7 linked regions of the Homo sapiens genome follow. The protein of the gene in region 2 purifies or fractionates together with the protein of the main gene of each other region. This does not show direct contact. Each region holds a gene or a part of one and is shown on either strand. Other genes may lie near its edges. The genes, in order: AIFM1, PPTC7, DNAJC11, MAOB, MRPL22, ACSF2 and ASF1A.

Region 1 (3,500 bases), on a different chromosome or scaffold from region 2:
TAGTCATTAAACTGTTTACAAAGTCTGAAGCAACATAGAAAATGCTTACATTTATGGTGTTAAGTGGAAAAGAGCAGAATATTATATATAGTATGCTTGCCACGAATAAAACAAACCAACAATAAAACCTACATGCAAGGAAACACAGGGAAGGAAATACACCAAAATATTAATGGTTGCTGCAGGTGACTTTCCTCTCCTCTCTCCTTCTTGTCTGTCTTCTACATTGACCACATATTACTTTTTTTTTTTTTTTGAGACTGAGTCTTGCTCTGTTGTTGCCCAGGCTGGAGGGCAGTGGCATGATCTCCACTCACTGCAGCCTCTGCCTCCTTAGTTCAAGTGATTCTCCTGCCTCACTCAGCCTCCCAAGTAGCTGGGATTACAGGCCTGTGCCACCACACCCGGCTAATTTTTGTATTTTTAGGAGAGACAGGGTTTCACCATGTTAGCCAGGCTGGTCTCAAACTCCTGATCTCAAGTGATCCACCTGCCTCAGCCTCCCAAAGTGCTGGGATTACAGGTGTAAGCCACTTCTCCTGGCCCACGTATTACTTTTATAACAGGTTAAAAAGATCCAGTACATCTTTTTTTTTTTAAAAAAAAAAAAAAAAACAAGGTTTGGAGGGGGAAAAAAATTCCTCCAAGGTACCTACGTCCTTAGTTGCAGAGTCCATAAACAAACACAATACACTTGTAACTAGCAATGGGGAAATTACCTCATGGTTCCTACATACTATAGTCTTGTTTATGTCATAATAGATTGTAAAAAACAGCTAAAAATAGTACTCAAGGAAAATGAAAACAGAGTAATTTTCCTTTCTAGGGAACAGGTTATAACATTGCTTCATCCTCCATCCTCCGGATTCAAGTTTGAGCAAAGGGAACAGCAGATCCATCTGAAGGCTTATGTGCATGCCCACCAGGGGTTATGCCAGTAGCTGCTGCCAATAAGTAGAACCGGAAGAGCTCTACCCCTGCAGGCATGCACACTGTTCATTTCATCTGCCACTAGCTTGCAGATGAGGCCATACCTGGTCTTCTGAATCAAGCAGTTCACACATTTCTATTCTGTACCCTCAGCCTCCAAACACTCTGACCCTATTTGGTTAGGCTGTTGATGAGCTTTAGCACACCACCGGGCAGACTTGTTCACAGGCTAGGGAGAATGAATTATGCCTGGTCATGCTGTAGCACACTTACCACCCAGATGTTAGAGCGTGCTTGTAGCTCTGCATTTACCCGGAAGCCACCAAAATCTGAGTCTATTTCCAGGCCACCAGTCTTGGCCAACTCAACATTGGGCTCCAGGCCCACAGCTGCCACTATGTGGTCAGTTTCTACCTGAGGCAAAAAAGAAATAATTCAGTCAATTACCACAGTTTCCATTTATGCCTACAGGCGTAACAATGGCCCTTCATGCCATTAAGAATTGGGACTTTAAAAAATCATGGGTTAACTTACCTCTGATAAATGGATTTTAAGTTCTATTTCATAAGCCTCCACCACCCCATCCCATGCACATCCCCCATGTCATTCGAACAGAAATCTGCCACCCTAGCCAGGACTCAAAACTCTGTGAGACAGATAGAATGGGGCTAAGGGAAAGTGGTTCACAGGAGCCTACTCTGGCTCTCATCATTCTGTTTTAATGGAGGGATGGTTAATTCGGAAAATTATATCAGGTTAATGGCAACTGCCAGGAAAACTAATCTACTGGTGTCAAATGAAGGAGTAAAAATGAGGCAAGGGGAGTGGAGAACTGGAAGGCCTCTTGGCAGACTATCTTTTCCTTCCTTACCTTCCTGCCGTCTTTCAGCTTGATAAGTAACTTGCCACTGCTGACTCCAACGGATTGCACAATAGCATTGGGCATCACCTTAACCCCCTCTGTAAAGGCAAACAAGACCTGAGAGTGAGCCTACAAGGCTATCACTTTCATGGGAAGTAGGAAAGCTGACCAGCGGTCTCCTCCACGGTAAAACCAATTATCAGTACACAGGCAGTTTTGGAGAGCTGCAAGAACCTACACCCATGGTTCATTTTCAGCACTTCCAGGAATTTGGGGCATCTGATTCAGAACACCTAGATGAACTTAGCTGACTGGAGAATGGTGGAAACATTTTACAGGCCAGGTGATAGGGCTTATGTCAAGGGGGTTCCTATAGAAGCGAAGTTTGCCTTAGGTCACACTCAAAGGAAATAGAGTGGCAGCATATAGAAACAGTCTCTCTACCTCGTCTGACTTTTTCCATGGTCCAGTTGCTGAGGTATTCGGGGAGGATCTTTCCCATATTTCCTTTCTCGGGGAAGAGTTGAATCACTTCTGTGCCCAAGGCTCGAGCTGGGAAGAAGAAACAGAGTAGTTACAGCAGGAAGCAAAAGTCAATCCTAGGAATACAGGAAGAGAAGTAAAGGAGCAGCAGGCAGCCCTCACTACAGACAGGGCAGAGCTGCAATCCAGGCCGAGCGCCCACTTACAGGACAGTGGGCATGAGGGCCTCGGTGCTCAAGTTCATTTGTAACGCAAATACAACAGGTATCAGAACTGCTGGCCCCAGATTAAGCTTCAGATGGTGAACTCTGTGCACTTCCACCCATGCAGTCACCTAAGGCTTACATAAGTGCTTTGCAACCTCTGAATAGGAAGCATCCTCCTGAAAAGATGCCCTGATTTCATATATCTGAAAAAGAACATTAAGAAAACTAGTTGCCATGAAACATTCCAACTGGAGCTCACAGATCTCTCAAGCTGGGAACCATCATGTGCCCAAAGAAGTTTTTGGCATTTTACAGGAAGCAGCAGTTCAAAGACACCCATAATTCTGTAGTCTGCATTGCCCTTATCATCTTCATAACTCACTTTCCTTAATATTTTATTTCTAAGGAGTCCTGGCATAGAGGGTAGAGGAAAAGAAAGGAAAGAAAGTATTGCTGTTGGCCAGGTGCAGTGACTCACACCTATAATCCCAGCACTTTGGGTGGCCGAGGTGGGTGGATCACCTGAGGTTGGGAGTTCAAGACCAGCCTGACCAACATGGAGAAACCCTGTCTCTACCAAAAATACAAAATTAGCCAGGTGTGGTGGTGCATGCCTGTAATCCCAGCTACTCCAGAGGCTGAGACAGGAGAATCGCTTGAACCTGGGAGGCGGAGGTTGTGGTGAGCAGAGATCACACCATTGCACTCCAGCCTGGGCAACAAGAGTGAAACTCCATCTCAAAAAAAAAAAAAAAAAAGCATCGCTGTTAAGTTGCTCAGGTGACAGCTTTTTGGTCACCAAGGGATCCCTCACCAGAACTAATCTCAGTGTTTAGCTTTTCACTATATAAACCTTAATTAGGCTGGGTGTGGTGGCTCACGCCTGTAATCCCAGCACTTTGGGAGGCCAAGGTGGGCGGATCACCAGGTCAGGAGATCGAGACAGTCCTGGCTAACACGGTGAAACCCCATCTCTACTAAAAATACAAAAAATTAGCCAGGCGTGGTTACAGGCGCCT
Region 2 (3,500 bases):
AATAAATACCTACGTATGATGACCACTTTGGGACCCTTGGGAGACACAGAGTCCTTACTATGCCAAAATACTGTAGCTATTTCCGGTGAATGTATTCTTTTTTTTTTTTTTTTTTTTTGAGACGGAGTTTAGCTCTCGTTGCCCTAGCTGGAGTGCAATGGTGCAATCTCAGCTCACTGCAACCTCTGCCTCCCAGGTTCAAGTGATTCTCCTGCCTCAGCCTCCCTAGTAGCTGGGATTACAGGCGTGTGCCACCACGCCCAGCTAATTTTTTGTATTTTTGGTAGAAACGGGTTTTAACCAGGCTGGTCTCAAACTCCTGACCTCAGGTGATCCGCCCGCCTTGGCCTCCCAAAGTGCAGGGATTACAAGCGTGAGCCACTGCGACTGGCAAGTGAATGAATTATTTTTTTCCTTTTTCTTTTTCTTTGAGATGGAGTCTCACTCTGTTGCCAGGCTGGAGGGCAGTGGCACGATCTTGGCTCACTGGCTCACTGCAACCTCCATCTCCCGGGTTCAAGCAATTCTCCTGCCTCAGCCTCCTGAATAGCTGGGATCACAAGCGTGTGCCACCACGCCTGGCTAATTTTTTAATTTTTAGTAGAGACGGGGTTTCACCGTGTTGGTCAGGCTGGTCTTGCACTCCTGACCTCAGGTGATCCACCCACCTTGGCCTCCCAAAGTGCTGGGATTACAGGCGTGAGCCACCACACCCAGCAGTGAATGAATTCTTATAAGATTGGCGGCTGGGCGCAGTGGCTCACGCCTGTTATCCCAGCACTTTGAGAGGCCAAGGCGGGCAGATCACGAGGTCAGGAGATCAAGACCATCCTGGCCAACATGGTGAAACCCTGTCTCTACTAAAAATACAAAAAATTAGCCGGGCATGGTTGCGGGCACCTGTAGTCCCAGCTACTCGGGAGGCTGCGCCAGGAGAATGGCGTGAACCCAGGAAGCGGAGCTCGCAGTGAGCCGAGATCGCGCCACTGAACTCCAGCCTGGGCGACAGAGCGAGACTCTGTCTCAAAAAAAAAAAAAAGATTGGCATGTTGTTCTCCACAGGTATTCATCATCCCACCCTCACTATGGCACTCCAGGACCCAGATTCAAATATTCGAGGAAACTGATGAGTGAAATATGTGAATAAGAGGGGGTGGGCTGGGTGGCTGGTGATTACAGTGGCTCATGCCTGTAATCCCAGCACTTTGGGAGGCCGGGGCAGGCGGATCACCTGAGGTCAGGAGTTCAAGACCAGCCTGGCCAACGTGGCAAAACCCTGTCTCTACTAAAAATGTAAAAACAAATTAGGCGTGGTGGTGCATGACTGTGGTCCTACAGGCACTATTTTACATGCCTGTAGTCCCAGCTACTTGGGAGGCTGAGACAGGAGAATCGCTTGAACCCAAGAGGCAGAGGTTGCAGTGAGCCTATATCGTGCCACTGCATTCCAGCCTCGACAACAGAGCGAGACTTGTCTCCAAAAAAAAAAAAAAAAAAGGCGGGGGGGGATGGAATTCGGCTGTAAAGAATTAGGAATAAAGACTCATTTCCACTAGGATTTTAGAGGTGTGTTAGATCTGACTCAGAAGAGGACCCTTCCTCCCTCCTTCTCAGCCACTTGTGACTAATCATCAGACTTGGTTTTACTCGGTAGTTTCAGTTAAAAATTTGAAACATTTATATTAGAATTTTCGATTAACTTTTTTCAGAGTTGGGAATTTCAGAATGACTTTTTTTAAAAATTGACTCCATTATGATAAATCAGTTTTTCTTGCAGAAAGCTTATTACATTGTAAAATAGTGCCTGTAGGACATTTTCAACTCATCTGTAAAGGGCCTTCTTAACTTTGTCCCTCCCCTGTCCTTGCCACAGTCCGGATGCTGCTGATAGCACGTCTTTCGATGTCCAGCTAGGAGACATTATCCTGACGGCAACAGATGGACTCTTTGACAACATGCCTGATTATATGATTCTTCAGGAGCTAAAAAAGTTAAAGGTAATTAACTCAAAGGTTAGCTCTTGGGAAAAGTGGCCCTCTCTGGATAGCTGAGTTTTATGGATTCAGTTGCATTATCTCTTTGTAGTTTTGGAAAGAACTATTTTGTGAATTTCAGGAAAATAATAATAGCTCTGGTCTTTCAAATAATTAGAGCACTTGGAAAAAGAAGCTTCCTACCCAAGGTTTTCATAGGCTGGTAGAAGTAGGAAAAGTCTAGATGGAGGGCATTTCTTGTTTGTATCTTTATTTATATTTTAATGGTGTCGGGTCCTGGTTGTTTCTCCTTTTATTCTTCTAACACCCAGCAGGTGTTGAATCAGGCAAAGACAGGAAATAGTCATGCCAGAGCCAGCCAAAGGCAGCAGGCCACTGGAAGCCTCAGTGTGACCTGAGCTGCCACCAGTAACCAAATAGTATGGGTTTCTCCCATAGAGGAAGGAGGTGAAACTAGGCTTTCAATTTTTTCCTGGCTTTGTGAACATACTCTGGGAAAAATGAGTCTTTTTCTCATGAGTCTTTACCTCTAACCAGTATGACTTTGGGTACGTTTCTTTCTTTTTTTTATTATTTATTGAAGTTGCTGAGATCTGAGGGTTTCTTAAAACTGTTTAAGCAGTATTTTCTTCATATAAAATGGGGCATCCTAAAGATCCTCTTTTATAGGGTTGCAGTGAGGATTAACTACAGCCCTGTGTAGGAACTCCTTAGCGCCACGCCTTGTCTGTGGAGTGCAGTCAGTGTGAGGTGCTTCCTTGTCACAGGCACCGTGCTCTGTGTGGTGACACAGTGGTGAGCAGAATCTACACAGTCCCTACCTGTATGGAACTTACATCCTAGTGGAGGAAAATAGATAAATACAGGGAAGTAAATCTATGATGTAATGTGGGTGCTAAATAAGAAAAACAAAGCTGGATAAGGGAATAGAGAGTAGAAGGGACTGCTACTACTTTAGATAGATTGGTCAGGAAGGGCCTTTTTGAGGAGGTGACATTGAAGCAGAGACCTGTCATTATACTGAAACTAGAGCTGAAGTGGACCTCGTGTTCCCATCCCCGTTTTGCAGATGAGGAAGTTGGAGCAGCAAGGATAAAGGTATGGCCCAAGATTTCACAGCTCGACAGGAATCTCTTCCTGATATAAAATTCTGAAGGTATTTTCACTAGAGCAACTGGTAGCTCTTGGAGAGCAAACTGGGGTTGGCCAGGCTGTGTTCCTAAGCAAGGAAGCTTTTGAGGTATCCTTCAAAGGCTATCAGAATCTGCCTTTTCAGTTCATCCTATTTTAGCAAGAATACCTTAAGAATTTCAAATGGGAAAAAAAGCAAAAATGAAAATCCAAACTTTAGGGCTTAAGGCCACCAAAGCAAAGGACTTTCTGATTGATACCTTGTGCAGGCAGCACTGGAGTCTTGTTCATATTAGCCAGGGCATGATGTTTTAATGTCTTTTCTAACTAGAATAAAACTTACATGATGGAAAAGGTGGTTAGATAAATGTTACT
Region 3 (3,500 bases), on a different chromosome or scaffold from region 2:
TGTACCAGGCATATGCTGTAACAGTGGTAATAATGCAGCAATGTTCTCAATTGTCTTCTTTTTAAGAAATGTGTGACTCCTTTAAAAAATATATGCTATTTTATTTTTTCATCTGTTGTCTTACATCCTTTCTTAAACAAAGGTGTAAGTAAGTAAAATTAAAATGAAAGGTTAATAAAAAGCAGACAATAAAATTCTACAGCCAAGCAAAGCATGTTGCTCTCATGTCCCGTTTTCCATTGTTTTATTACTAAATTCACAGCAAATACAAAAGTTTTCCATTGAATTCTCTTTAAGAAAGAAAATAAAAGAGGTGTTTTGGTAGATAATGCAAAATTAGAGCATTAACATTTCAAGAAGCAATTGTTTGAAATGCCCAAAGCAGAAAATAACTGGCTTATAGATCATTAAAGAAACACATTGTGAAATGTAACCTCACGTTTGCCAATCACATTATGAGATGACATTGGAAGTGGTGGGGCATCCTCAACAGCCCCCTCCCTGCACACAGGCAGCTTCTCTAAACTCCACTTCCCGGGCACCCTCTTGGGCCCACCCCTGCCCCCAGCTCTGCCTCCTCTCTGCTTGGCTCACAACTATCCTATCTTTACCCCAAACACCCAAAAAATGTTATCCTTGAGCCTGCACCCTACTCCCATACTTAGCCCCAACTTCCAGGAAAGCTCCCTATCCCCATGTCAACTTTCCAGGAAGCACAAGTTCAGAGAGATCACTGTCTTTTAAAAAGAACAAACTCAGTGTTTTGAACAGAAAGTAAAAAATGCTTCAGGAATTTTTTTTTTTTTTTTTTGAGATGGAGTTTTGCTCTTGTTGCCCAAGATGGAGTGCAATGGCACGATCTTGGCTCACTGCAGCCTCTGCCTCCCGGGTTCAAGTGAATCTCCTGCCTCAGCCTCCCATGTAGCTGAGATTACAGGCATTTGCCACCACGCCTGGCTAATTTTTGTATTTTTAGTAGAGATGGGGTTTCTCCATGTTGGTCACGCTGGTCTCAAACTCCCGACTTCAGGTGATCTGCCCGCCTCAGCCTCCCAAAGTGCTGGGATTACAGGCATGAGCCACTGCGCCCAGCCTCTTTTTTTTTCTTTGACAGAGTCTTGCTCTGTTGCCCAGGCTGGAGTCCAGTGGCACAATCTTGGCTCACTGCAACCTCCGCCTCCTGGGTTTGAGCAATTCTCCTGTCTCAACCTCCCAAGTAGCTGGGATTACAGGCGAGCATCACCACACCCGGCTAATTTTTTTTTTTCGTATTTTTAGTACAGACAGGGTTTCGCCATGTTAATAAGGCTGGTCTCAAACTCCTGACCTCAGGTGATCTGCCCGCCTCCGCCTCCCAAAGCGTTGGGACTGTAAGGCGTGAGCCACCACACCCAACCTCAGGAATTTCATAAACTAATGCTTAGCATACATTCTAGCACTATGATTTTTAGTAATATTACAAGTGGATAGCAAAGTTCATCCTTAGCCAGGATGAAGCATACCAAGTATGTCTTTCACATTTTTAAATTTATTTATGTACATGTATGTCTTTCACATTTTTATTTATTGTTATATTATCGTTTAGATGGATTCTTGCTCTGTCGCTCAGGCTGGAGTGCAGTGGTGGTGCGATCTTGCTTCACTGCAAACTCCATCTCCCGGGTTCAACCAATTCTCTTGCCTCAGCCTCCCGAGTAGCTGGGATTACAGACGCCCACCACCACACCCAGCTAGTTTTTGTATTTTTAGTAGAGACAGGGTTTCACCATGTTGGCCAGGCTGATCTCGAACTCCTGACCTCGTGATTCACCCGCCTCAGCCTCCCAAAGTGCTGGGATTACAGGCATGAGCCACCACGCCCAGCCTTTTATTTATTATTATTTTTATAGACGGAGTCTCGCTTTTTATAGACAAAGTCTCGCTCTGTCGCCCAGCCTAGAGTGTGGTGGTGTGACTGCAGCTCACTGCAGCCCCAAACTTCTAGGTTCAAGCAATCCTCCTGTAACCAAGTACCCCCATTTTTTTTTTTTTTTTTTTTTTGGAGACAGAGTCTCGCTCTGTTGCCCAGGCTGGAGCACAGTGGTGCGATCTCTGCTCACGGCAACCTCCACCTCCCAGCAGAGATTCTCCTGCTTCAGCCTTATGAGTAGCTGGGATTACAGGCGCCCGCCATCAAGTCTGGCTAAGTTTTGTATTTTTAGTAGAGATGGGGTTTCACCATGCTGGCCAGGTGGGTCTTGAACTCCTGACCTCAAGTGATCCGCTGGCCTCAGCCTCCCAAAGTGCTGGGATTCACAGGCATGAGCTACCATGCCCAGCCCCATTTTTTCTAAGAGATAGTTTAATTATTTTCTCCTCTCCCCCTTTCCCCGGTACCCTGCTTCCTACTTAGCCCTTTAGAAATGCAAATATAACCTTTCCCCTCCCCCTCACCAGACATCTTCTATGGGGCAAGTTCAGCTAACTACGTGCTCCAAGACGGATCTCTTGACAGTGGATTTGCAGACCAAATCATGTCCCCATGGCCACTTTTACTTCTTTCTGCCCAGGAAGATGCCAACTCAATTGCCAGTTAGATAAAGTACCCAGATAGCAGGGGGACCCCTGCCCTTGCTCATTTCCTCCTATACCTTATAAAAGTGCCTGCTTTCTGCTCTAAAAGTGAAGCGGTACAGCAGGACATCGTGCCCCTTCCCCAAGCTGACTTCAGAGTAAATTCACTGGCTTTGTATGCGCCTCACTCTTGTTAACTGGACTCTGCATGCGGTAAACAACTGACCTGCTTTTCGGCTGCACCTCCACCTTAGGCTGGACTACAGGTTACAGCTCATGCCACCATGCCCAGCTAATTAAAAAAAATTTTTTTTGGCTGGGCGCGGTGGCTCACACCTATAATCGCAGCACTTTGGGAGGCTGAGGCGGGCGGATCACAAGGTCAGGAGATCGAGACCATCCTGGCTAACACGGTGAAACCCCGTCTCTACTAAAAATACAAAAAAAAAAAAAAAATTATCCAGGCATGGTGGTGGGGGCCTGTAGCCCCAGCTACTCAGGAGGCTGAGGCAGGAGAATGGCGTGAACCCGGGAGGCGGAGCTTGCAATAAGCCGAGATCGCACCACTGCACTCCAGCCTGGGCAACAAAGCGAGACTCCGAATCAAAAAAAAAAAAAAAAAAAAAATCAGCTGGGCGTGGTGGCAGGTGCCTGTAGTCCCGGCTACTCGGGAGGCTGAGGCAGGAGAATGGCGTGAACCCAGATGGCAGAGCTTGCAATGAGCCGAGATTGTGCCACTGCGCTCCAGCCTGGGTGACAGAGCGAGACTCTCTCAAAAAAAAAAAAAAAAAAATTTTTTTTTTTAATTAAAGATGGAGTCTTGCTACGTTATGCCAACCCAGGCTGGTCTCAAACTCCTGGACTTAAGTTATCCTCCTGCCTTAGCCTCCTAAGGTGCTGGAATTACAGGTGTGAGCCACCCCCCAATCCTTATGTCTTTTTTTAAA
Region 4 (3,500 bases), on a different chromosome or scaffold from region 2:
CATAAGGTAAATTGGTAAAACTTTCTTGGGCGACAATTTTGCTATAATTATTAAATGCCTTAAAAGAATTTCTAACATTTATCTCTGGAAATTTCCTAAAGAAACAATCAGAATTATGTACAACAATTTAGGTTCATAACAGCTTTGTTGAAAATAGCAGAAAGTTTGAAAAAAACACAAATGTTCAGCAATAGGAGATTGATTCAACAAGTTGTGATACAATCATATGAACTAATGTTATAAAATCATGAAAAAACATTTAAGACATAGGTAAACATTCATAACATGTTGGTATTTATTTTTAAAGGGGATACAAATAAGTACAGTAAATACAACATAAAGTTTGCATAAAGAAAATATAGGTGGCAATAGTAACAGTGGTAAATATTTTATGGAGTTCAATTATGGATGATTTTCATTTTCTTTTTGCCATTTTCTATAATTTACAGATTTTCACAACAAATGTTTATTATTTCTGCATTCATGCTATTAAAAAAGATACTCACACCTCTCTAAAAAATGTCCTCAAACTGTAGATCATCAAGATGGAATGTGATTGCATCTTTCATTTCTATCAGTGGCCTTTCTTCTTACCAAATGTTTGAAGTAATTTTGGTTATTAACTAAATTGGTTATTAATTCTTAACTTTATCCTTCTGAAAAAAGATGCTTTGCTGGATAACAAAAGCTCTTCCAATGAGCTTGTTTCTTTAATGTAGAAAACTGGAAAATAACCCAAAGAAATGAGATATAACTAAAGACATAATTATCAATACACAATTTAATACACACACACCACTGGGATCACAGCAATAAAAAGTAGCCCAACTTCAAAATATGAAGTAAGGATTCCAAATTCAATTAAAAGAATCATTAAAAATGTTGGAGAGGTTAAGCAAAAGGGACGATTATTTAGGCTAGAAGGAGAGCAAATAAAACTAAGTATCTAGTAGGACATTTTCATCATTGTGTAATTCTGATAAATGTTATTGAGGAGGAGAGTAGAATTAAAAATGGCCTAGCTAAGAGATGCATAACATAAGATCAAGAGCTCAAATTTCAGATATGAAGTGGAAATTAGATAGTATATGACATTTAAGATGCCATTAAATGGAGACTATGGTAAGATGACTAACATTTGAAAGGTCAGACCTACCTGAAGATGTTTTCTGATGGTGCCCCTCTCTCACAAAACAAAAGGTTTAAATGACATTTTTGTTCGTTTTTGTTTGCTTGTTTGTTTTTGAGATGGAGTCTGTCTCTGTCGCCAGGCTGGAGTGCAGTAGTGCCATCTCGGCTCACTGCAACCTCCGCCTCCCTGGTTCAAGCGATTCTCCTGCCTCAGCCTCCCGAGTAGCTGGGACTACAGGCGCCCACCACCACGCCCGGCTAATTTTTGTATTTTTAGTAGAGACAGGGTTTCTTCATGTTGGCCAGGATGGGCTCGGTCTCCTGACCTCGCGATCCGCCCGCCTCGGCTTCCCAAAGTGCTGGGATTACAGGTGTGAGCCACTGCACCCGGCCGACAGTTTTTATATAACAAATAAGATGAACTATTCATTTTGTGTTTGAGATTGCCAGAGATACACGTTTTATCATTTAGTAAACTGGGTCACAGCCCTTGGGAAGAAAATCTCTGTTTTTAGTTTTTTAAAGAAGAAAAAATGTAAATACAGTCAAGTCCTTCAATCCCAATGATAAAACTTTGGAGGGAAGTTTGCAAAAATAAAATATAGGTGGCAATAGTAACAGTGGTAAATGTTTTATGGAGTGCCTACAACTTCATTAAATTACAACTAATTATTGTTTGTGATACTTCTTTTCTGGATAGGCTGCCAGCAAGACAGTGAAGAAAGCCAAGTGCAACTTTGGACACCTCCTTCTACTCATTCTTCCCTTCTTTCTATCCCCATTTCTCTTGAAACCTCCCTTGGGCATTCAGAATAACCCAATACATTATAATCAGCTGATCACCTCTCAATCCTTTCCTGAATTTCTATCCATGTTTTGGCTTCCCTGGTTATCAGGCACACGACCATCCACCTTATCTTTATAGTATAAACTGTCAATGGCTCCCTATTTCTTACCACAGGAAAACCTAACTTTTCACTTTGTTTTTCAATTGCTCGTTTTTGGATCCTGCCCCCCTCCTACTAACTTTCCTTCCCATGTCTCCCCTTCCTTTTATTCTAGACAAGCTGGACTTTCTACTGTCCTGTAAATATAAAGATCACCTGCTAACTGAAGTCTCTGGCCCTATGATTTAAATGATTCTTCTCATCTTTAAAGCCTCTCTCTTCTCTACCCTCCCAAACCTGGACTGTTCTTCAGAATCTGTTAAATTCTACTCCCTTAATGAGACCTTCTCCAACTCCTGGGGTCTTTAATGATTCTTCTAACTTAGTCCTTGGGTCCCACAGTTCAGAATTCAATTATACATTAGTTTAATTGTTCCTTATTGCATGTATGTGCTAGTCTTGTGTCTCCATCTGCATTTTAAGTTTCCTGAGGCTGGGAACTTAGTCTTACTCTTTTTCTATACCTTCCTTCAGTAAATAAATGCATGCTGACTTAGGAAACATTGCTAACAGGGACTTGGCTTTCTGTATCTTTATTTACTGAGTTAACAGAGGAGGCCAAAGATGGATCCATTTTGTGAGCATGAAAACAGAAAGTAGAAATAGTGCATTCAAAGTATTAGTGATTCTAACCTCTCACCCAGCACCATTTGATCAGGTTGTCCTTCTGTTTGCATTTTCTCCTAAGGCTGAGGGCTCATCCTCCAGGACAATAATTTTATTCAAAAGAAGGGGCTGTGAGGTCTGGAGCCAGCCCTTTGCACTCTCTAAATGTGCTTTTTCTTGGATGCAAAACCAGGCGATCTTAACTAGTAGGTAAAACTCTAAAGATGCTTCCGTCTTCAGTCACCAATGATTCTATTAAACCAAAGTATTTTTTAGCTTGGTCTTCTAAGTTTGTTCCTTGAATATTCAAAATCAGGAAGGAATTTTATACCATTATGGCCTCCTCTTAGGGGAAATAACAACTTTTATGCAGACACACTACTAATAAGTTAAGCCCAGCGAATGAGATTCTTGCAAAAGCACAATGGTACACATTTAACCTGAGCAAATTTCCAAAGCATTCTCTTGTGGGGCTGAAAACACTCGTTCTTCAGACACATATTACACCTGAACGTGGCCCCTCAATTTGGCTCACTTTTGCACCCTTCAAGGGTATTCGATCTTGCATGATTCCAGGGTGCCCTCAATTGAGTACTGCCCAGTGACTTGTACAAATAACAAAGTTAACATTTATTGAGAATTCTAGGAGTTAGCCCAGGAACACTCACCCGCTTTTCAAGTACCAAGAAAAATTGAAGAAACTTGGCTGAAGAAGTACCAAGACAAATTGAAGAGACAAGCTCTTTGAAAGAGCTTTTGATATCTAGCAGGGCATCTTTTGCAGAAGGATAAATTGAAGAATTAATAACCACATTT
Region 5 (3,500 bases), on a different chromosome or scaffold from region 2:
TCTAGTACATCTTCTCTGTCAATTAGAGTGAATGGTTGTATAATTTTTTTAACACAGAATAATAAATCATTACTAATCACTTAAGAGTAAGAGCACTACCACAATTAAGAGATTAGTTCTACCCACGAACTTACTGCTGGTCTCCGAGGTTCTCCAGGCAGTTGTGGAGGATAAACAATTTTATTCTTCTTCTCCCATTTTCGAGAAATGTCAAGAGAAGCACTTGTGTGGATATATGATTGAGGTAAAACACTGTGAAATGAAAGAAGCCTATAAAACAACAGACACTTAGGGGACCTTTCTGTAGAGTTTACATATCTTTTGAACCACTTCAGCTCCATTTTGATGAAAACAATTTAAGGATCACAACTGGAAATATTCTAGAGGTATTCATTAATAGAGACTACTTTTAAACACAACAAAGAGACAGTTTATTAGAGGCTAACAGGAGAGAAAGTAAACGCACATAAGTCAAACCGTTAATAGATATTAACCCAAGATTTCTTGCCCTGACTGGCCAATAACACTGTCTTCTATAAGTCACCCACTCCTAAGAAAGATTTAGAGAAGACATAATGAGCTCTCTGATCTGACCTGTAAGATTGCCCAACTTTGTTGAGTAACTAAGACAAAAACACAAAACAATTAGAAGACAATATAAAACCACATAACTAAAATATGGGAAACAGCAGAGGATTTCAGAGGTGACTTCAGGTGAATCTTGAACTTCCTAATTGATATGGCTCGGCTCTGTGTCCCACCCAAATCTCATCTTCAATTGTAATCCATACATGTTGAGGGAGGGACCTGGTGGGAGGTGATTAGATCGCTGGGCAGTTTCCCCCATGCTGTTCTCGTGATAGTGAGGGAGTTCTCATGAGATCTGATGGTTTAAAAGTGGCAGTTTCCCTGCACTGTCTCTCTCTCCTGCTGCCTTGTGAAAAAGTTGCCTGCTTCCCCTTCACCTTCCCCTATGATTCTAAGTCTCCTGAGGCATCCCCAGCCACGCAGAACTGTGAGTCAATCAAACCTTGTTGGTTTATGAGTTACCCAGTCTCAGGTAGTATCTTTATAGCAGTGTGAAATGGACTAATACACTAATTATCAGAGGAATGGGGCAACGACATATATCATCTATGCAGAGGTACAGAGTTGAGAAATAAGGGGAGGTCTGACTGAGTCAGAGAATTTGTTAAGTATTGGAAAGGTCATTGAGGCTAGAGTGGTTGTCTTTGAATGCTAAACTAATAGGCTGAGACTTGATGATGAAGATCCCAAATTCACTATTCCTTGACCTCTTCCCCCACACTTTAACTGCTTTAATAATATACAACTAGTCATTCTCCCTCTCCCATTTTCCCCAGCATCCGCTACTCCCCTATATCACTAAATAAAATCACTCTTGAATGGTGTTCTAGAGTTTATCTTCAACTTCCCAATGATTTTCATCCTGCCAGAGCTAGTCACCAAATCTTACAGATAAAATAAAGATTCCCCTGAAATCGTTCTCAAATGCTTTACCTCTTCCCCATTCTAATTGCCACCATCCTATATAGCAATAGCCTCTAGATTGATTTCTCTTCCATCAACTTGCCCAATTCCAATCCATCTTTCTCTGCTTGAGTACCAAATGAGCTACCCTTCTATAATTCAGAGCTACTCATGTCATCCTCCAGCTTAAAAACGTCTATTGAAATAAGCAAATGAATAGTTATGTAATATTCTAATGCTATCCTTTTTTTTCAGTGTCACTGACTACTGGGATTCTTGGTATGGAAATAAGCAGAAAAGGTTCAGCCAAAATCCAATAAGTACTAGATCTCTCCACTGAAGAGGTGTAGAAGCAATGAACAATCTAGTAGCAATTAGTGCCCCTACTTCCCAGATTACGGTCTTGAAATACCATTTCCTATTGAAGAGAACCAAAACTTCTGAGAGAAATGGCTGATTGCAGATCTCAAGCAGATAACATACAAAATGAGCCCAGAACATCTTGTCATATCAGAAAGCAAAGAAGCCATCAAAGATTACCAAGGTCATGTCAAAGGCACTCAGGAGCCAACTTGTGGATGCCCAACAAGCCAAAGATGGGACAAGCCAAGCATTAATCAGGACAATAATTGTAGTGGGTTGAAACACATCAAATATGTTTAAAGCCATAAGTTCATAATAAAACCAGGAAAAATACAAATTAATTACCATTAGAAAATGCTAGTGAGCCAACTTGTTATTTTGAAAACTGGTGAATGAAGAGAAAGAATGAAGAAAAAGACAAGACTTATCCTGTCTTTCCTATACAAACTGTACCATTAAGTTTCCAAGTAGTAGATGAGGAAAAATTTGACTTGTATAAAGTTAGTAATGAAGGAATAGCAAATTATTATAGCATCATCTTATAATCCTTAATAAACTAATGGATAAAGGAGGCATTATGTGCCTCCTTATGGAAGAACACACCACCCACCATCCACAAAGTAGTCTTTCCTGCCCAAAATGAAACTGGGGGCTCAAGCCCCTAGATTCAAAATAGGAAACACAGAGAAAAGACAACATGTTACGTAATATCATGGGGATGCACTCGGTAAAATCCAAGGTATAGAAAACGCTACAAAACAACCAATTGTCTCCAACAAATAAATTACAAGAAAAAAAAGAGAGGGTTGAATAAAAAACCTACAGAGTAAGAGATTTAACAGAAATATCAATTAGTTTCAATGTGTGAACTATTATAAAGTATGACAGTTACGAAGCCATTGGAAGTTTAAATATCAAATGGATATTTAATGCTTTTTAATGAGATAATAGTAAAATATTTATGAAAATGATACAGTGGGGGGAGTGTTTCAAAATATGATGAGGGAGAGTACAGGTTATAAATAACATTGGCCATAAGTAGTAAGTGTTGAAGTTGGGTGACGGATACATGGAGGTTCATCAAACTGTCTACTTTTGTATATGTCTGGGCATATCCAAATAAAAAGTTAACACAGCAAACTTTGGTATTTCCCTACTGCCCACAATACGAAGTCCAGACTCTTTAGCGAGACATAGAAGGCCTTTCATAATCTAGACCCAATCTGCCCTTATAGCCTAGCCACATAGATGTTCATTGTTCCCTGAACAAGCCTTTATTCAAATTGTTTTCTCGTCTTATTATCTCCTGAATGAAATGCTTATCCTGTTTTAAGTTCTAGCTCAAATGTCACCTCAATGTGAAACATCACCTAATCCCTTATCTGATCATGATTCTCGCGTTGTCTTAATACTTTGTTCTTGCCAGCCATACAGCAATGACTTAGACCACTGTACTATCGTAAGTGGCTATAATAGAATGAGTTATTGTACTAAGTGTACAGATGTTGAGCATTTAAAGGGCAAGTCCGACTTTCTTTGTATTCTAGCACCAAGAACAATGTCTGGTACGTGGATACTGCGTAAACATTTAACTCAGACTTATATACTCAAAGTGGTTGTATATTGGCATATTCTCATACAAATAT
Region 6 (3,500 bases), on a different chromosome or scaffold from region 2:
GCGGAGGTTGCAGTGAGCCGAGATCGCGCCACTGCACTCCAGCCTGGGCAACAGAGCGAGACTCCGTCTCGAAAAATAAAAAATAAAAAAAATAAAAAATAACAACAACAACAACAACAAAAATGAACTCTGACTAAGTCTCACATTCTATATAAGCAAAAATAAAATGAATCAGACTTAAGTGTAAAAAAAAATTATAAAATCTTCTGGATCTAGAGCTAGGCAAAAAGTTATTAGGCTTGACACCAAAAGCAAGATCCATTAAAAACAAACAAACAACAAAAAAAAACACTCACTGAGCGCTGGGTGCAGTGGCATGCACCTGTAATCCTAGCTACTTGGGAGGCTGAGGCAGGAGAATTGCTTGAACCGAGGAGTTGGAGACCAGCCTGGGCAACATAATGAGATCCCATCTAAAAAAAAAAACTCACTAAACTAGACTTTATAAACTAGACTTAATAAATTAGACTTTATAAAAAAATTTTTTTAAATTGCTATATGGGCTGGGCATAGTGGCTCACGTCTGTAAAGTAATCTTAGCACTTTGGGAGGCTGAGGTGGGAAAATCACTTGAGCACAGGAGTTGGAGACCAGCCTAGGCAACACAGTGCCATCCATCTCTATGAAAAAATTTTTTAAATTAGCTGGGCTTTGTGGCGTGTACCCATAGTCCTACGTACTTGGAAGGCTGAGGCAGGAGGATCACTTGAGCCCAGGAGGTTGAGGCTGCACTGAGCCGTGGTTGCACCACTGTGCTCCAGCCAGGGTGACAGAGTGAGGCCTTTCTCAAAAAATTAAAAAAAAAAAAGGATTAAAAAATTTTGCTCTGCAAAAGACCCTTTTAAGAGGATGAAAAAAAGCTACAAAGTGGGGAAAAACATTTGTAAGCCACATGTCTGACAAAGGAATAATACTAGAATACATACAGAACTCTGAAACATTGAGCTGTTTAATACGTAAAACTCACTTTTGTGAGTTTTTGTCAAGGTTAATGAGCTGCTCCTCCCAAAAGCACTCCTTGGCTTCTGAGCAAAAAAAGCCAGACACAGGCCAGGCACGGTGGCTCACGCCTGTAATCCCAGCACTTTGGGAGGCCGAGACGGGCAAATCACCTGAGGTCGGGAGTTTGAGACCAGCTTGACCAACATGGAGAAATCCCATCTCTACTAAAAATACAAAATAAGTCAGGCGTGGTGGCACATGCGGGTAATCCCAGCTACTTGGGAGGCTGAGGCAGGAGAATCGCATGAACCTGGGAGGCGGAGGTTGTGATGAGCCAAGATTGCGCCATTGCACTCCAGCCTGGGCAACAACAGTGAAACTCTGTCTCAAAATAAAAAAAAGAAAAAAAAAAGATCTGTGCAGTTTACTGTATGTAATTATATCATAAAGCCCCATGATCTTTCTACCACTCGACATAACCACCCTGAGGAGTATGTGACCTCTGAAAAATACCAACTACAAAGAACAAACTACAAACGACTACAAAGACTAGTAAGGACTACAGTAAAAAAAAAAAAAATTATTTTTTTGAGACGGAGTTTTGCTCTTTTGCCCAGGCTGGAATGAGGTGGTGCTATCTCGGATCACTGCAACCTCCACCCACTGGGTTCAAGAGATTCTCCTGCCTCAGCCTCCCGAGTAGCTGGGATTACAGGTGCATGCCACCATGCCCAGCTAATTTTGTATTTTTAGTAGAGATGGGTTTTCGTCATGTTGGCCAGGCTGGTCTTGAACTCCTGACCTCAGGTGATCCACCTGCCTCAGCCTCCCAAAGTGCTGGGATTGCAGGCATGAGCCACCGCACCCAGCCCAGTAAAGATTTTGAACAAGATACTCTATATTGGTGGAAGCTTCCATTCTCAGCATCTTGTTTTGTTATTATTATTATTATTATTTGAGACATGCTCTCACCCTGTCACTGAGGCTAGAGTGTGGTGGCATGATCACGGCTCACTGCAGCCTCGACTTCCTGGGCTCAAGCAATCCTCCTGCCTCAGTCCCCCAGGAAGCTGGAACCACAAGCACATGCCACCACACCCAACTAATTTGTAAAAAGTATTATCTGTAGAGATGGGGTCTCCCTATGTTGCCCAGGCTGGTCTCAAACTTCTGGGCTCAAGCGATCCTCCCACCTCAGCCTCCCAAAGTGCTGAGTTATAGGTGTGAGCCACTGTGCCTGGCCCATTTTCAGCATCTTGAATGGAACCACTGGTGTGTTTGTAAGTATGTACAGAAAATACATAAGAAGTGATAATTTGGGTTTAGAAAACTCTCTCAAGAAGACATAGAAGGGCCAGTGCGGTGGGTCACACCTGTAATCCCAGCACTTTGGGAGGCTGAGTTGGGAGGATCGCTTGAGCCCAGCAGTTTGAGACCACCTGGGGCAACAAAGTGGAAATCTGTCTCTACCAAAACAAAATACAAAAAATTTAGCAAGGCATGGTGGTACACACCTGTAATCCCAGCTATTTGGGAGGCAGAGGTGGGCACATCACCTGAGACTGGGAGGTCAAGGCTACAGTGAGCCGTGATCACGCCACTGCACTCCATCCCAGGTGACAGAGTAGCCTGAAATACTTGGAGTCAGGAGGCATCCATGCTGCAGGTTTTCTTTTGGAATAGCTGGACAGAGACCCCAGGAGAAGAGTGCCTAGGAATCAGGGATGGGGGCTGAGTCAAGACACTTGTCCCTTGATAGGATTACTAAAATACATACAAGGCTAGATATTAGTTTTCTAGGAAGAAAACCTTTGAGGTAGCCAGGTGCACATGGTGGTTTGTGCTTGTAATCCCAGCTACTCAGGAGGCTGAGGAAGTAGGATTGTTTGAGTCCAGTAATCCCAGCATTTTGGAAGGCCAAGGCAGGCGGATCACGAGGTCAGGAGTTTGAGACCAGCCTGGCCAACATAGTGAAACCCCATCTCCACTAAAAATACAAAAAATTAGCTGGGCGTGGTGGCAGGTGTCTGTAATCCCAGCTACTTGGGAGGCTGAGGCAGGAGAATTGCTGAACCCAGGAGGCGGAGGTTACAGTGAGCCCAGATCGCGCCACTGTACTCCAGCCTGGTGATAGTGCGAGACTCCGTCTCAAAAAAAAAAAAAAGAAAAAGAAAAACATATTTAAGTGTGTGTGTGCGTGTGTGTGTATAAAACAAAACTTGATGCTTCTTTTTGCTCAGGGGACTACAGAATTACAGAATGTCAGGTTAGGAAGCTGCATACTCAGGGTTCATAAGAGACCAAGTGAAATTTCACACACGTATGAAGGCTGCATACTTCAAATCACAGCCTTATTGGGTTTAGGGATCAGGCTCAAACTCCAGCCTCTTTAGGAATCACAGAATCTTCTCCCAAAGGTAGAGCACATCTTGTCCAAACAGCCTATTTTACAAACAAACTAAGGTCTGCGGAGGTTCAGTAACTTGCCTAAAGCCACACTAAGTTAGGACTGGTAGGACTGGGATTTGCTTTCCCGTCAACTAACTCCCAAATGGAGG
Region 7 (3,500 bases), on a different chromosome or scaffold from region 2:
ATAGCAATCCAGAAAGGCAGTGAAATGCTCCTTATAAAGTTCCTACCAGAGTTCACACTTTGATCAGAGTTTCTCAAAATACTCTTTTGTGAAACACTAGTTCCTGGACAGTGCCTCACAAACAAGATAACATAGCCAAACACTTGGGAAATGCTGTAAACCTTGTCTTGAGGATTCATAAAGCATGCTGGCACAGTAAGTTTTCTGAGATATCCTTCAGTAAAGAACACCAGTAACATTAATCCAGCACTTCCCAAATTTATTTGGCTATGGAATCCCCCTTTTTTTGTATATCATCTTTTAAGGCCCTTCTCAACACACTTTGGAAGGGCAGCCCTATACTACGCTGCAGAGATCCAAATAATCACAGAGCTCCAAAGTAGAAAAATTATTAGTAAAACCTCCCTCATGGCTCAGAAGTAAGTGGCTTCAGCTCATCAACTGTCAACGAACAATGGTAGGGTTTTTCCCTTACGGCACCCCCCTGTGTCATACATTCTTTAAATTGGGCAGAGGAAACCAAGATCTTTACACCACGTGATACAATAGAGTATACACAGTGGAGATAGGCAGGAGGAAAAGACATTCAGGTGCAATTCAAGGCGTTATATGTAATTCAATATAGCGGATTTTACTGAGCATGTTTTACAATGTGTTCTGTGAAGTGAACCCAGAGATGAGTAGAACTCTTTGGAGGAGTCTCCTGTTTAGCTGAGGAAGAAGATAACTTTGTAATACAAACCATCTCTGAGAGACCTCTTCATCTTCTTTGGGTATTTTGCACTGTGTGGCCTGCCTCTTGCATTCAACACACTGTTACACAAGCACTCCCAAAGGGTGAGTTTCTGGGTCACTCATGACAATCTAGTTAGTGCCACCATGTGTGGCCATTTTTGTGTAACTGTAGATATTTTTGTTCCCTAAATTGATAATAGAAATAGTAACGTACTGCTTATTTATATTGTATTGTAAACTACAATCAACTGAAAGCTCCTTTTTTATTTTCTCTTATTAAGTCAGCAATCATTTTCTGAGGACCTATTATGTCATGGCTCTGTCCTAGAACTAAACCATTTCTATTTCCAGCTTCCAGCACACTTCCAGATGCAGGGTGCTGCATCTGACATCTCCTGAGATCATCTGTTGATGGAGATAGAGAGGAAGTAGGCAATATAAGTATCTCGCCAGAGGGAACAGCAAATACAAAGGCCCAGGGGTAGGGCACACTTGGCAAGAAAAAGCAAGGAGGCTAGGGCTGGAGCAGAATGAAAGGAAGGAGGAAAGCACCAAACCCTATGATTGAGGATGAGGGGAACAGCCAGATCATGCGGTTTTGAAGGCCATCATAAGGACTCTGGCTTTCACACTGCGTGGCATGGGAAGCCATCGAAGGGTTTTGAGCAGAGCAGTAACAGGAGCCAACTTTCATTTTAAAAGGAATGCTTTGATTGCTGTGTTCAATATAGAGTGTAAGAGGACAAGGGAAGAAACAATATTTCAATAATTGAGGCAAGAAATTATGGTGGCATGGACCTCGTGTGGCCATGGGGCTGTGCAACAGTTATATTCTGGATAAAATCCTGAAGATGAAAGCAGCAGGAGCCACTTTTGCAGGGAGGTGATGTGGGGTAGGGGAGCAATCAGGAGTTCATTTTAGACATATTTGAGATGTCTGCTTCTAAGCAGAGATACTGAATAGGCAGGATAAAAATTTGGAACCTGTCAATGATATGTAAAGCCATAAAAATACATGGGCTTGCTCTAGGGAGTGAGATTTGAGCCCTCCAAAGATAAGAGGACAAATTAAGTTACAAAACAAGTGGCAAATGAGGTAGGTGACCCAAAAGCCAAGTGAAGAAACTGTTTTAAGAAAGTGATGTGAAAGGTACTAAACTAGCCAAGTGAGGATAAGACTAAGAATTATCACATAGAGTGGCTGGGCGCAGTGGCTCACGCCTGTAATCCCAGCATTGTGGGAGGCTAAGGTGGCTGGATGGCTTGAGGTCAGGAGTTCGAGACCAGCCTGGCAAACATGGTGAAACCCCATCTCTACTAAAAGTACAAAAATTAGGGGTGGCACATGCCTGTGGTCCCAGCTACTCGGGAGGCTGAGGCACAAGAATCGCCTGAACCCTGGAGGCGGAGGTTGCAGTGAGCCGAGATCGCGCCACTGCACTCCAGCCTGGGCAATGGAACGAGATTGTCTCCAAAAAAAAAAAAAAAAAATTATTACATAAAGGTTTTCATGAATTTTAATTTCATATATAATTGTATCACTACATATAATGCCCTTGATCCTAAGTGGTATAAATTCGCATTTGTGGACTGGCATAGGAACATAGCCATAATTTATAAACCTATTTTAGAAAATACCTACTATATACTGGGCATTAGTTCTACTTCATACCTATTGTTTAAACCTCAACAGCTTCATCATGTAGATCAAATTATCCCCATTATGCAAATAACTTGAGACTCTGAGAGGTTAAGTAATCTACACAAATTCATAATTTGTACATCAAAGAATCAGAATCCAAGCTATGCCTCTGTAACTACAAACCCCGGGCTTCTTCTGAAAACCTAACTGGGAAGATAAATTCTTTCTAGCTCTGAAATTAGCAGTGGAATAAGGGAATTTATTTGCAGGGGAAGTGAGAGCAGAGGAGATGGAGAGAGAATCTAGCCTTAACAAGAACAGGCTGCAACTCAGGGAACACTTGTACATTGATTTTTATGTTTATGGGATGCTTGCTACAGTTGCTGAGTTTTACATGCTCAATACCCTTTTATACATTGGCATCAGTTTTTTTGTTGTTTTTTTTTTTAACCCAGCTTTCATTTAATTCCTCTGCCCCCTGTATTTGAGGGAGGAAGGGTAAGGTCAGATGTTTTACATAAGTTCTCAGGTGAAGAAATTTGTTCATTTATTTTAAAGTTAACTTTTATTTAATCACAGTAATCATGATTAAATGATTTACCCAGCCTGAAAGTATTTACATTTGTGGTGAAAGAGTGAGTGAATGAGGGAAGTCATCAAGAGAATTTTTAGCTAATTACACTACTTGGGAAGACCTGTGGTCTAGTGGAAAGTATGTAGGCTTTGGAATTAGAACAAGCTGAAGTTGGAAAGTATGAAGCACCATGCTCAATTCTGGTATATTATAAGTATTCAATTGACAGTAGCTGTAATTAAGATATATATATATATAAATTTAAGAATGGCAGGATGGTCAATCAAAACTTGTACAGTCTTGGTGACCATCAAGCACATCCAGCCAGGGTCTCAGGCTGTCTTAACCCTTGATATAAGCCCTATATTAGAAAGAACCAAATTATCTTAAGACCAAATATTCCTCAAGGCTTTTTCTGAAGCAAAGCTACAGGGCAGCTCTTAAAGGAAAGTGAACGTTTGGGGCTACTGATGAAAGTATGAAAAACGGTGGCCAAACTCTGCTTTGAGACTTGAGGCAAAATAACTTATTAAGAAAATTCTTTTCAAA

The links.
Region 1: the proteins of PPTC7 (region 2) and AIFM1 purify together in Homo sapiens (affinity purification with mass spectrometry; one large-scale study listed by BioGRID and IntAct). This does not show direct contact.
Region 3: the proteins of PPTC7 (region 2) and DNAJC11 purify together in Homo sapiens (affinity purification with mass spectrometry; one large-scale study listed by BioGRID and IntAct). This does not show direct contact.
Region 4: the proteins of PPTC7 (region 2) and MAOB purify together in Homo sapiens (affinity purification with mass spectrometry; one large-scale study listed by BioGRID and IntAct). This does not show direct contact.
Region 5: the proteins of PPTC7 (region 2) and MRPL22 purify together in Homo sapiens (affinity purification with mass spectrometry, with the first as the bait; one large-scale study listed by BioGRID). This does not show direct contact.
Region 6: the proteins of PPTC7 (region 2) and ACSF2 purify together in Homo sapiens (affinity purification with mass spectrometry; one large-scale study listed by BioGRID and IntAct). This does not show direct contact.
Region 7: the proteins of PPTC7 (region 2) and ASF1A purify together in Homo sapiens (affinity purification with mass spectrometry; 2 studies listed by BioGRID and IntAct, with this or other methods). This does not show direct contact.

What each region holds. Positions count from the first base shown.
Region 1 is NC_000023.11:130,134,842-130,138,341, forward strand, and holds part of AIFM1 (apoptosis-inducing factor 1, mitochondrial isoform AIF precursor), read right to left. Parts: intron 3,200-3,500; exon of another isoform or gene 2,685-3,199; coding exon of another isoform or gene 2,677-2,684; exon of another isoform or gene 2,345-2,676; coding exon 2,237-2,344; intron 1,891-2,236; coding exon 1,802-1,890; intron 1,345-1,801; coding exon 1,204-1,344; intron 1-1,203. UniProt on the Homo sapiens protein: Functions both as NADH oxidoreductase and as regulator of apoptosis.
Region 2 is NC_000012.12:110,538,319-110,541,818, reverse strand, and holds part of PPTC7 (protein phosphatase PTC7 homolog), read left to right. Parts: intron 1-1,873; coding exon 1,874-1,997; intron 1,998-3,063; coding exon of another isoform or gene 3,064-3,090; exon of another isoform or gene 3,091-3,092; intron 3,093-3,500. UniProt on the Homo sapiens protein: Protein phosphatase that plays an essential role in mitochondrial metabolism and biogenesis. Positively regulates biosynthesis of the ubiquinone, coenzyme Q. Dephosphorylates the ubiquinone biosynthesis protein COQ7 which is likely to lead to its activation.
Region 3 is NC_000001.11:6,691,817-6,695,316, forward strand, and holds part of DNAJC11 (dnaJ homolog subfamily C member 11), read right to left. Parts: intron 1-3,500.
Region 4 is NC_000023.11:43,872,451-43,875,950, forward strand, and holds part of MAOB (amine oxidase [flavin-containing] B), read right to left. Parts: intron 1-3,500.
Region 5 is NC_000005.10:154,947,573-154,951,072, reverse strand, and holds part of MRPL22 (large ribosomal subunit protein uL22m), read right to left. Parts: intron 253-3,500; coding exon 135-252; intron 1-134.
Region 6 is NC_000017.11:50,432,718-50,436,217, reverse strand, and holds part of ACSF2 (medium-chain acyl-CoA ligase ACSF2, mitochondrial isoform 2 precursor), read right to left. Parts: intron 1-3,500. UniProt on the Homo sapiens protein: Acyl-CoA synthases catalyze the initial reaction in fatty acid metabolism, by forming a thioester with CoA. Has some preference toward medium-chain substrates. Plays a role in adipocyte differentiation.
Region 7 is NC_000006.12:118,897,152-118,900,651, reverse strand, and holds part of ASF1A (histone chaperone ASF1A), read right to left. Parts: intron 1-3,500. UniProt on the Homo sapiens protein: Histone chaperone that facilitates histone deposition and histone exchange and removal during nucleosome assembly and disassembly.